Linked DNA regions of Homo sapiens. The protein of the gene in region 1 purifies or fractionates together with the protein of each later gene. This does not show direct contact. Each region holds a gene or a part of one and is shown in the gene's direction. Other genes may lie near its edges.

Evidence for each region.
Region 2: the proteins of SMR3B (region 1) and CRTAP purify together in Homo sapiens (affinity purification with mass spectrometry; one large-scale study listed by BioGRID and IntAct). This does not show direct contact.
Region 3: the proteins of SMR3B (region 1) and PSG3 purify together in Homo sapiens (co-immunoprecipitation; one large-scale study listed by IntAct). This does not show direct contact.

Annotation. Positions count from the first base shown.
Region 1 is NC_000004.12:70,381,924-70,386,054, forward strand, and holds the start of SMR3B (submaxillary gland androgen-regulated protein 3B precursor), read left to right. Parts: upstream 1-1,207; 5' UTR 1,208-1,289; intron 1,290-2,573; 5' UTR 2,574-2,587; coding exon 2,588-2,641; intron 2,642-4,131.
Region 2 is NC_000003.12:33,144,907-33,148,321, forward strand, and holds the end of CRTAP (cartilage-associated protein isoform 1 precursor), read left to right. Parts: 3' UTR 1-2,867; downstream 2,868-3,415. UniProt on the Homo sapiens protein: Necessary for efficient 3-hydroxylation of fibrillar collagen prolyl residues.
Region 3 is NC_000019.10:42,726,929-42,730,583, reverse strand, and holds part of PSG3 (pregnancy-specific beta-1-glycoprotein 3 precursor), read left to right. Parts: intron 1-527; coding exon 528-806; intron 807-1,206; coding exon 1,207-1,461; intron 1,462-3,655.

The DNA of each region.
Region 1 (4,131 bases):
TAAATAATAATGTGTCAAAACTACAGATTATAGGATCATCTAGCTTAGGAAAAATTATGCTCAAAGCCTAGATTTATCAAAAAAACAAGGCTGTAATTTTCCATTAGACATCCACTTCAAAGTCAAGATATCCGTATAATTTTGCCATAATCAAAAATTTTGCTTGTCATTATATTTTTATTTAATTAAATGTCTCAAGTTAATAATGGCAAGGACCACATGATTTTTAAAACACAGTTGTTCTCATTTAGTTCTTCACTGGCAAAAGGAACTTCCTAAAAAATGCATATATAAGGTCTTGTAAATAGTCTACTAACTTAAGATAATCACAAAGAAATGAAATATAGTTAAGACTGAGAAACTGCATGAACCTTCTGACTATTATCCCTCTTCCACCACTAGATTTTTCTTTCCTGCTTTTTTGAAACTTAGATCCAAATCTTAATAGCAGCACTCATTTTCATCATCCTTCAGAAACATCTACTCAATGAAGACAACTGTGAAAAACCATACATAGGATAAGATATATACAAACTTTCAAGCACAAAACAATAATACAATTTCATTATTTCAACCAAAAAATAGAAACATGAAACCCACAACATATAGCAAAGTGATCAAAACAGTCAAGTGAAATTTTAGATATTCTTTACATTACTGGCCATGCATCGTACCTGCGTGCATGTGTGTGTGTGTGGTATTTAGCAATATTTATTTAATTAGGCACTTTTAATTTTAATTATCATTTTTGTTCCCCTAGGTTCTCCTGATCATGTTAGAATTCAGTTTAAAAATATTTGTATTTCGCACATATGGAGGCCTTTGAAATAAAATAGAAAATATGATGAGACTAGCAAATAACAAAAGATGGCCCATTAAATCACTTGGAACAGAAAAAACTCGTGCCAGCTTTTCCTTTGAAATAAAGAGGAAATGGTGCACCACAGGCCCCAGATTGTTTTTCTGAGGTGATAGGATATTATGATTTGTTGTATCTGTTTCCTCAGGAAACAGCAAATGTTGAACAGGTCAATGCTTTTCAGGAATGAAAAAAAATCCAGAAAAAGACTGCCAAATTGGCAAGAACAACTTTCCTATCTTTGAAGAGCATCAACTCGGAAGTTATTTTATTTCCGAATAGCCTTTCTCTTATTGCCAACAGAAATCCATTACAATATATAAGAGCTAAGATTTCTTGTCCCTTTTCACCTTTATTTGCCGTCTTTCAACTGGCAAGAGTCATTTTGACCAGCAGATTAATCAACTGTAAGACAGATCCTCACACAAAGGTAGGTACTTGGAAATATAAACTGAATATTTTTACTTTGAATATTGAAATTTTTCTCAAAGATAACATTTTCAACGATAACATTTTATGGGCTTTTCATAGAACATTCATTATCAGCAAAAACATAAGTAGCTTACATGAAATTGTAAGTCATTAAATGCAATAAATTTTGAAAAATTCTGGTTTTTACAGGTCAGAGTAAAACATTCATGTTGGGCATTTGGGCCAATCGGTCCATCCAAGTACACAATTGACTTTTCCTCCTGATGTACCTTAAAGTTCTTGAAACTTCATAAGGATAGAATAGTCTCAGGTGTACTCTAAAAGACAGAATTGCTCTACAGAATATTTTTATTATTGGTTTTTCTTTTGTTTTTCAAACTTAATTTAAGAATGGATATAGGAAAAGTACTAGTTAAAGGAATAGCCACACCCACATATATATAATTGAATATCCAGTGAAATTTTGTCCATAGGATTCTTTCAAGACTTGCATTGCTCAGACCACACACTCAACCTATGTGCAGAGTTGACTAACAGGAAGCCAATTTGCACCATGGTGTATGGAGTTGCTTTCCCAAAAATCAAGCTATCATGTACTTGAAATATATTGTAAAATTTGACCCAATTGAGAGTAGAATACCTGGACATCTCCATGTTCTTGCCTTGGTCTCTGATATATGGATTTTTGGAAGCACTTTGAGACCACTCATCACAGCCTAAATTAATGTAATAGAATGTTGTTAAAACTAGGAAATATATTATGTGACTCTTCTTTTAGACTATATCCAACAGGGTGATTCCTTTTTTTTTTCCTTATTTTTAAGCTCTTCCAAGCAATAAAATTTGTAACATAAGATCTAGTTAAAATGTTAATATCTCAAACCCATCCATAGAAATCTATAATGTATCTACTATTTTTAAAATATCAAAATGTTCAAATGAAAATAAGTATACATTTTAAAGTAGTTACTTCTAAGGGAAAAACCTTAGTCATAAAAGCTTCTATTGCTCAGAGCAATGTATGAACAACTCTTTGGCATTATCCCCAGGATCAGTTTACAAGTCAAAAATAAAAACTACTTCCACTATTTTGAAGTCAAATTTTATAAGCCTACTAATATTGCCCCACAGTAATACTGAATTCAAAATAACATTAGGCAAATTCCCTAAAAATGCTATAGTAGGATATTTGTATTACATTATATCCAAGTGTTGAGACATTTTAAATAGTACTTTTTAATAAAAAACAATCATACTGATCACCTATTGTGCTTACTTTCAGAGGCAACTGAAAGGATGAAATCACTGACTTGGATCTTGGGCCTTTGGGCTCTTGCAGCGTGTTTCACAGTAAGTATCATTAATCACGATCACACTTCTTTATAGTTTCTCATTAACCATTACTTCAGATTTCTTTTTACATTAATGATGTTACCTTTTCTTATATATTAGTAACTATTAATCATCAATGAAACACTGTTTAGGGCTTAAATTTAAATTTAAAATCTAATTTAAATAACCACACATGTCTGATGGCTGCCATACTGGACAGCTCAAGTCTGTGGTATCAGACTGCATTAAACAGATACGTATAAATGTTAAGTTCCCATACTCTAGTCAGTTACACAGTAGGTAAAACTCTATAAAAATAGATAATCAAAATAAAACCGTTTTCCCAGCATGTAGTTTATGGATCATTTACACCAGAGTCACCTAACTCACTTATTAAAAATATAGTAAAGACCTCATCCAAGCTTCAATAAGAGTATCAGATAATGGGACCTGGAAAGATGCATTTTACTAAGGATCTACAAGTATCTTTGCATGCTAAATTTTGGGAGAATGCTAAGCATTTATATATAAACAGCTACTTTGTATACAAAACCAGGTTAAAGACAAATGAGATACTAAATATCATACAAAATTACAAAAATGTTTTTAAAACACACGTATTTCAAAGTAGTAGAATCATACTCGATTTCAAAGTAGTGTTAGATTAATTCCAGTGACAGAAAGAGAATATTAATTCCAGAGTAATTTCCACCAAAGTACTATAAAATCTATATCAAATTGAAAAATATGAAAGCTGTTTTTTTTAGATTATGACTTCCACAAATCAAGCAACATAAATTTACATCATTCTGAAACATGAAACATAAAATAATTCCTTTTTCATCTACTTTGTTTTTTTTTTTTTTTTTTTTTTTGAAACAGACTCTCGCTCTGTCGCCCAGGCTGGAGTACAGTGGCGCGATCTCGGCTCACTGCAAGCTCCGCCTCCCGGGTTCGCGCCATTCTCCTGCCTCAGCCTCCGGTGTAGCTGGGACTACAGGCGCCCGCCACCACGGCCGGCTAATTTTTTTGTATTTTTAGTAGAGACGGGGTTTCACCGTGTTAGCCAGGATGGTCTCGATCTCCTGACCTCGTGATCCGCCAGCCTCGGCCTCCCAAAGTGCTGGGATTACAGGCGTGAGCCACCGTGCCCGGCCTCATCTACTTTCAAAAAGGAACAAAATCAGGAAATTCTAAGGTTACTGAGGTAGTCTGACCTTGGCTAAATTACTGAGAGCATTATATGTTGACATAATTTTTAATAAACCAATAAAATATATTGATATATTTTAAAGGTAATATCTTAATGGCTTGATTATAAAGCTTATTTTCAATATTTTTATTCCCTCAGAATACAAAAGAAAAACATTTATAATTTCAAAGTATCAGGCTTTTATTATATAAATTTTTTTTTATAAGATTAATTTGAAAAAGATAACTTTCTGGGCCAGGCACGGTGGCTCACGCCTGCAATCCCAGAACTTTGGGAGGCTGAGGCAGGTGGTAAC
Region 2 (3,415 bases), on another chromosome or scaffold:
TCCAAATAAGCCACTTGTGTAGTTGGGCCCCTCCAGGGTTGAAGGCAAGAGGAGAAAGGCACAGCGTTTGGGAAACAAGACTTTTCCTGCAATAGCCTGGGAAGGAATAAAAGGATAGAGTGTTTGGGTTTTTGTGTAATGGTGGTTAATTGGGGTGGAACACTCACACGTTGTGCTTTTTCTGGGCTTCCCTTATCCCCCAGAACACTCTACCAACCTCGGGGAACTCGGGCACATCCTTCTGTTTCTCCTTCAGCTCTATCCTGCTTTCCTCATCCCTTCTGACACCACGTCCTCACTCACCTGCACAAGAATCCCTGCATCAGGTTCTCCTTTGAGGGTACCCACCCAGGACAGTCCCCTACCACTTCTGTCTTGGGCTGAAGTTGCCCACGTCCACAAAATCTGTACTCCCAGCGGGGGTGTTTGGCCCGAGGAGTCAGTGTTATTACTGGTGGATGCACCGTGTCCACAGCAGCCCCCAATCCCAGCGATGCGTCAGATCTTACGTGGCTTCCTGCTGGGGGAGATGGCCTTCACCCACGGGATGCCGGGTTCTCCTTTCTTTCCTCACCCCAACCTTTACTCCACCAGAGAAACTTCCTTTTGAACTCAGTGGGGAAGAGGGTGATGAGACAGGACTAGAAAGTAGTGGGGGACCCAGCGAGTGGACGCCCTGCTCCGGGATTCCTGAGTCTGTAAATAGTGTGCCCAGCAGCTGTGAACTCCCCTTATAGCCTCAGGCTGCAGTGTCCTTCCCAGCTGTGTGAGAAAATGAAAGCCGACGTCCACAGGGACCCAGGCAGGGTTGGGTGTTGTGACTCACTCCACCTCTGTGCCCTGCAGAGGTACTGTTGGGTCCTTGTCTTGTGAGCCTGGGGTGAGCTCTCTGTACATGTTGTTGTTCCACGTATGGGTTGACTTGGCATGCTGGGGGGTCCTCGTTCACTCTCTGAAGTTGGCCTCCTTTCACTGGGGATTGAAAAGCACCTCCACCCCTACCCTAGTGATGTCCCCTGAGGACCCGGGTGATAGTACAGTCAATATTGTCAGTACTTTGCTTTGATTGAAGGCTGTAGAGCTGAGTTACCAAAATTTCTATTTCAAAGGAAACCAAACCTTAAAAAAAAAAAACAAAAACTGGGCTGGGTCTTCCAAACCTACCATGAAACCCTGGTGTGCAGGCTGCACTCAATGACCTCAACCCAACACCTCCCTGAGTGTGCTTCTTGGAAGAGCCTAGAAGATTCCTGGATGGAGACCCCATTGGTTCAGCCTCAAGTCTGGCCCGTCTTCGAAAAAACAAACACATTTGTAAGCTTTGTGGGAGCTTCCAGGCCTGCTCTAAGATGCCTTGCTTGTCCTTTGACCCATCAGCATGGAGCTCAGTGGTTGCTGTTTGGTTCTGCAGGCTGGTGGGGAGGCCGCCCATCGTGGTGGGGCATCTGTCCAGCCCCATTGCCACTCAGGGCATCCAAACAGGAGGCACCCGCTGGGAAGGGTCTAAAGATACTCCTTGTGGCCACTGCTACTGTTCACACTTGACTTGTGGAGAAGCGAAGGGCTGAGGGGAGGTTTGTGTACACCCATGTATTTAAAAGTGACTGACTGACTGAAATGAGCACATACCGACATATGCAACATACTAATACCTTCCTGATTTTCGAGACTTTCTAATTACTACAACTAACCTGTTGTGCTCACCTCTGGAATTCAGAAAGAGAGCCACTGCGAGCACTGACCACAAGGGCTGCCTTAGGAAGGAAATGTGTGCTTTCAGGAGTTCTTATTAGGGGAATTTTAAGAGCACAAAAATTTTATTGAACCCACCTTAGTGACAAACAGAAAATGATTTGTTAGATTGTCAGTTGGAAGGGGTTTATTATGACTGCTGGTGAAATAAACAGTGACCAGTTTCTGCCAACATTTATGGAAATAACGTTTCTAGGTTTTAAATGTGAGCCGTAAACTGAAGCTACTTCAGTTAAAAAAAAAAAAATCAATACTTAAACTGTAGGGAAAAGGTGGATTGGTGCCAGAGAAAACATTATTTAATAGTGTCAGAACATGGAACTGCAACACAGTTTGTAGCAAGGCACTGAGAAAAACCCACAACTAATCCTTCATCGCAGCTGTCTGAACTCTTGATCATCTGCCATCCCCCAAACAGTGACTTCTTTTTTTCTGGTGACTCCAGGCCTGAATGACCTAGTGTGGAGAGTTTAAACTATGTACAAGGGAGGAAAGAAAAAAAGGAAAGGAACCTTAAGTAAGCCTCAGCCAAAGGTTTTATGCATTGGACTTCCTGTGCCTGCCCCCAGGGGCAAGACTGATCCCCATGCCTGTGCCCATGACATCTCCCTGAAAGAGGACACCATGACAGCCCGGCTTTGCCTTGACTGACCCACTGCTACCCCAGAAATAAGAATCAAGAGCAGCTATTGTTATCCTTAGAGTGTTTTCCGTCTAGGGCCGGCTCGTGAACAGCCACATATCCTTGCACCTGACACTGTCCCCACACAAATAGCTGGCTTTCGTTGCTTGTTGAATGAATGAGTGAGTTGGCTCTATATCCCCTTGGAGCTGGCCGGTAAGATATTAGTGCCTCATTTTACAAGAAGAGAATAGGAAGGAATTAAGCAATTTGGCCAACAGATACAAGATAGATTCCAGAGTTTTATCTCCCACTTTAGGGTGGCAGCCAGTAGGCCAAACTCCAAAGACCGTTGCTGATGTCTTTTTCTGCCTCCCCTCTTTGGGTTAGTGTGGTATGTACAAGCTCACTCTTGTTGAAAATTAGAAAATAGTTGAAAACAAAAGGTTTTTGTTTTTCTTTTTAAATCACATTAAATGTTTTACATTGCTTATTCTCTATTTTCTATTCTATCCACTGGACAGGGATGTCTTCACCACATTCTAGAAGCTATGTTGTAATGAGCTCTGTTTTCTCAGGTCTGTGAAATTTCTGACATTCATCTAACAAAGTAGAAACTTCAAGCCAGGGACTCCTGGATCTCATGCAAGAGGAGTGGTCCTTGCTCTCCATGAGCCAAGAGCTGGCTGAGGTCCTGTCAGGCAGTAGAGGCTCATGCCTCTCCCCCGGAAGATTGTCTTTCAGAGGAGATCTGGAATCCCACTAGGAAAAACATTTGGAATCTGTTTCAAACAGGGACACAAAGCATCTTCAGGCATGACTGTCAACAGCAACTATGCTCCATGCATGCCACTAAAGGGCAGGCAGGAGAAAGAAGAGTAGAAGGAAGCAGGTGGAAAGAGTGAGGAACCAGCCAGCACAAAAAGAAGTCCACGTTATGGAGAGTTGAAACAGCTGTCTGAAGAAGAGGTGGAGGACATGGAGGTCAGCCCAAGAATTCCAGAGGTTATGGTGAAAAAATCTGGACTGAGGAGAGGAGGT
Region 3 (3,655 bases), on another chromosome or scaffold:
GTGTTATTTCTGCTGAAACATCCAGTCCCAGGCCAGGCTGCTCAGTATCTTCAGGGTTTCAGGGCCATGGGAAGTCCCATTATTACTCATCTCTAGAATGTCCTTGGAAATGGAAGTTGCAGAGAAATCACATCTATGGGGGCAAAGTAGGATGGAATTTGGAAGGGGCCCACCAGTTGCACATTCCAGGTAAGGAACCCAGGGTGAGCCAGCCAGTCAACTGATTATGGAGGGACTGGGAGGGGTACCAGGGGCTGTGACTCCCATTGACGTGTCTGTCCATGACCCAACACTGCTGCTCAATTGACACTTGAGAAAGTCTGTGCTTCCCTAAGACAGAGCAGCTGGCCTCACAGTCTTTGAGCCCTTAGATCATCATGCATCTGTCTTGTGACACACGCACCAGCTATTGGCTTTCAAGGACTCGGGTGGGCTGAGAGGTGGGAGATGCCAACTCTGATTGAAGGATGCCAGTGGAGGAATCAAAGGTGCCACACAGGACAATCTTCTCTCTGTTATCCACACAGCGAAGCTGCCCAAGCCCTACATCACCATCAACAACTTAAACCCCAGGGAGAATAAGGATGTCTTAGCCTTCACCTGTGAACCTAAGAGTGAGAACTACACCTACATTTGGTGGCTAAATGGTCAGAGCCTCCCGGTCAGTCCCAGGGTAAAGCGACCCATTGAAAACAGGATCCTCATTCTACCCAGTGTCACGAGAAATGAAACAGGACCCTATCAATGTGAAATACAGGACCGATATGGTGGCATCCGCAGTTACCCAGTCACCCTGAATGTCCTCTGTGAGTATCTTTTGTTCCTCTGTGGGCCAGGACACCAGCTTAAATCAAAACGACCAGAGGCCAGGCCTCTCACTCTCTCTCTGGTCCAAGTATAGATACCATTACTTCTGGACATCCGAGCTGGCCATAACTTCCTGCCCTGGGAAGATCTGGGTAGGCACAGCCTTAACCAAGAATATAAGGGGAGGGGACGCTCTTGTCATGGGAGACTTGGGGCCCACAGCTTGTGATGGGAGAAACAGGGGAATACCTCAGGCTTCAGCTCAGTGAACATAGAGGGGGTTTGGCTGGCACTTGAGGGTGTGTCTTGGCTCAGAGGGTCACTGTGTCCCTTTAAGAGACCAGGAGCATCCCCTTCCCTCGGATGACATCACCTGTGGCTTTATTCTCTTTGCTCCAGATGGTCCAGACCTCCCCAGAATTTACCCTTCATTCACCTATTACCATTCAGGAGAAAACCTCTACTTGTCCTGCTTCGCGGACTCTAACCCACCAGCAGAATATTCTTGGACAATTAATGGGAAGTTTCAGCTATCAGGACAAAAGCTCTTTATCCCCCAGATTACTACAAAGCATAGCGGGCTCTATGCTTGCTCTGTTCGTAACTCAGCCACTGGCATGGAAAGCTCCAAATCCATGACAGTCAAAGTCTCTGGTAAGTGGATCCCAGCATGCTTGGCAATAGAGTTTTAGGTGGAGTCTCTCTGGCTTTCAGAGAAGAGTCAGGAAAACATTTTTATTCCCAGCCTGTGTCCCATGGGCACAAGCAAATCCCAAATTCTCCTCCTGAACCCTCCCAATTTGTCTCTACAGACTCTCTTCTCCTTGTTTTTCTGTTTTCTCATGGCTGACCTTGTGTCTGGCCTGAGAAAGGTACGGAGCGGGCTTTATCAGCCCTGAGCCCTATGTGGTAGAAGAGGATTCAGAGAGGGACAAGAAGGAGAGTCCTCAAGATCAAGTTGCTTCTTGCTGTCACCAACACATCCCCTTCTGCCACGTCTTTGTTTTCTTGTACCTATTCTATGAGCTACAAGGAACATCCGAGGCTTTGAAACAAGCTGACACTTTTCCCCCAGATGAGAGGAGGAAGCCCCTTGGGTGAGGGAGGAGCAGCTCAGACTCTGCTTCCTGCTCTGCTCCAGGCTCCTCTGGTGACTGGCCCTGCCTGACTCCACCTGGGTGGGACCAGCATCTGTGGAGAAAGAGCCCTGGTGGCCTGTCCTGAATTTGGCTAAATCGAGTTGCCAGTTGAAGCCAAGCCTCCCCCGGGCCAGGCTGCAGGGAAACAAAAAGAGAGGGAGCCTCAGGGCAGACTCCTGAGCTGTGTCCTGGCTCTGAAGTCACCGGCTGTATGAGGCTGTGGGCACAGCACCTGGGACACAGCACGGAGGACAGTGACTGATGCAGAGCTGGAGAAATAGGGAGATTCACCCCTAGGGCTCTGCATGGCAGGAAAGGGGCAGTGCCAAAAAGTGTGTAATTATAGAGAGGGTAAGACTACTGGACACTTTATATATATCTAATATAAGACTTACCATTAACTATTTCTAAGTGTGCAATTTAGTGTTGTGTAACCATCACACTATCCATTTCCAGAACTTTTTCCTCTTACCATATTAAACCTCTGTAGCCAATAAACAGTAACTCTCACTCCTTCTCCCCCTAAACCTTAGCACCCACCATTCTACTTTCTGTCTCTATGTAACTGGCTATTCTAACTATCTTTTATAAATGGAATTATATAATAATTATCCTTTTGTGTCTGGCTTATTTCAGTTAGCATAATATCTTCAAGGTTCATCCACTTTGCACTATGTATTGGAATTTTATTCCTTGTTAAGGTTGAACAACATTTCAATGTATAGATACACCTCATTTGCCTACCCACTTATCTTTCAATGGACTTTTCAGTTGTTTCCATTTTTTGGCTAGTGTGAGTAATGCTTCTCTGAACATCAGTTTACAAATATTTGTTCAAATTTCTTTCAATTCTATGGGGATTATGTCCAGAAGTGGAATTGCTGGATCAAATGGTAATTTATTGTTTAATTTTTTGAGAGAGAGCCACACCACTTCTTACAGTGGCTATAACATTTCCCATTCCCATCAGCAATGCACTAGAGCTCCAATTTTTCCATCTACTTGAAAACACCTGTTGTTTTGTGTTGCTGTCATTGTTGTTGTTTATCAAAACCATCCTAAAGTGTGTGAGGTGGTGTAACAATGTGGTTTTGATTTGCATATCTCCAAGTATTCCTGATGCTGAGGAACTTTGCATGGGCTTATTTGATATTTGTATATCTTCCTTGGAGAAAACTCCATTTTAATCCTTTGTTCATTTTTTAATTGGGTTTTTGGATGTTTGCTGTTGTTGACTTGTAGCTTTTCATGTATTCTGGAAATTAATTTCTTATCACACATATAATTTGCAAATATTTTTATCATTTCGTGGGTTGCTTTTTACTTTCTTGATAGTGTTCTTTGATATATAAAAGGTTTTGATTTTTATGAAGTCCGATTTATCCATTTTATTTGTTGCCTATGCTTTTGTTGTTACAACCAGGAAATCATTGTGAAATCCAGTATCATGAAGCTTTTCTTCTAAGAGTTGAATAGTTTTTGCCCTTACATTTAGATCTTTGATCTATTGTGGGTTACTTTTTGTACATGGTGTTAGGTAAAGGTTCCACTGTTCTTGCCCTTGGATATCCACCTTTCCCAATATCATTTGGTGAGAAAACGGTCCCTTCCCCATTGAACGATCTTGGCACACTCGATGAAAATCATTTGGCCATATATGCAAGCATTTCTTTCTGGGTTATTATATTTCATTAATTTCTATGTCCTCC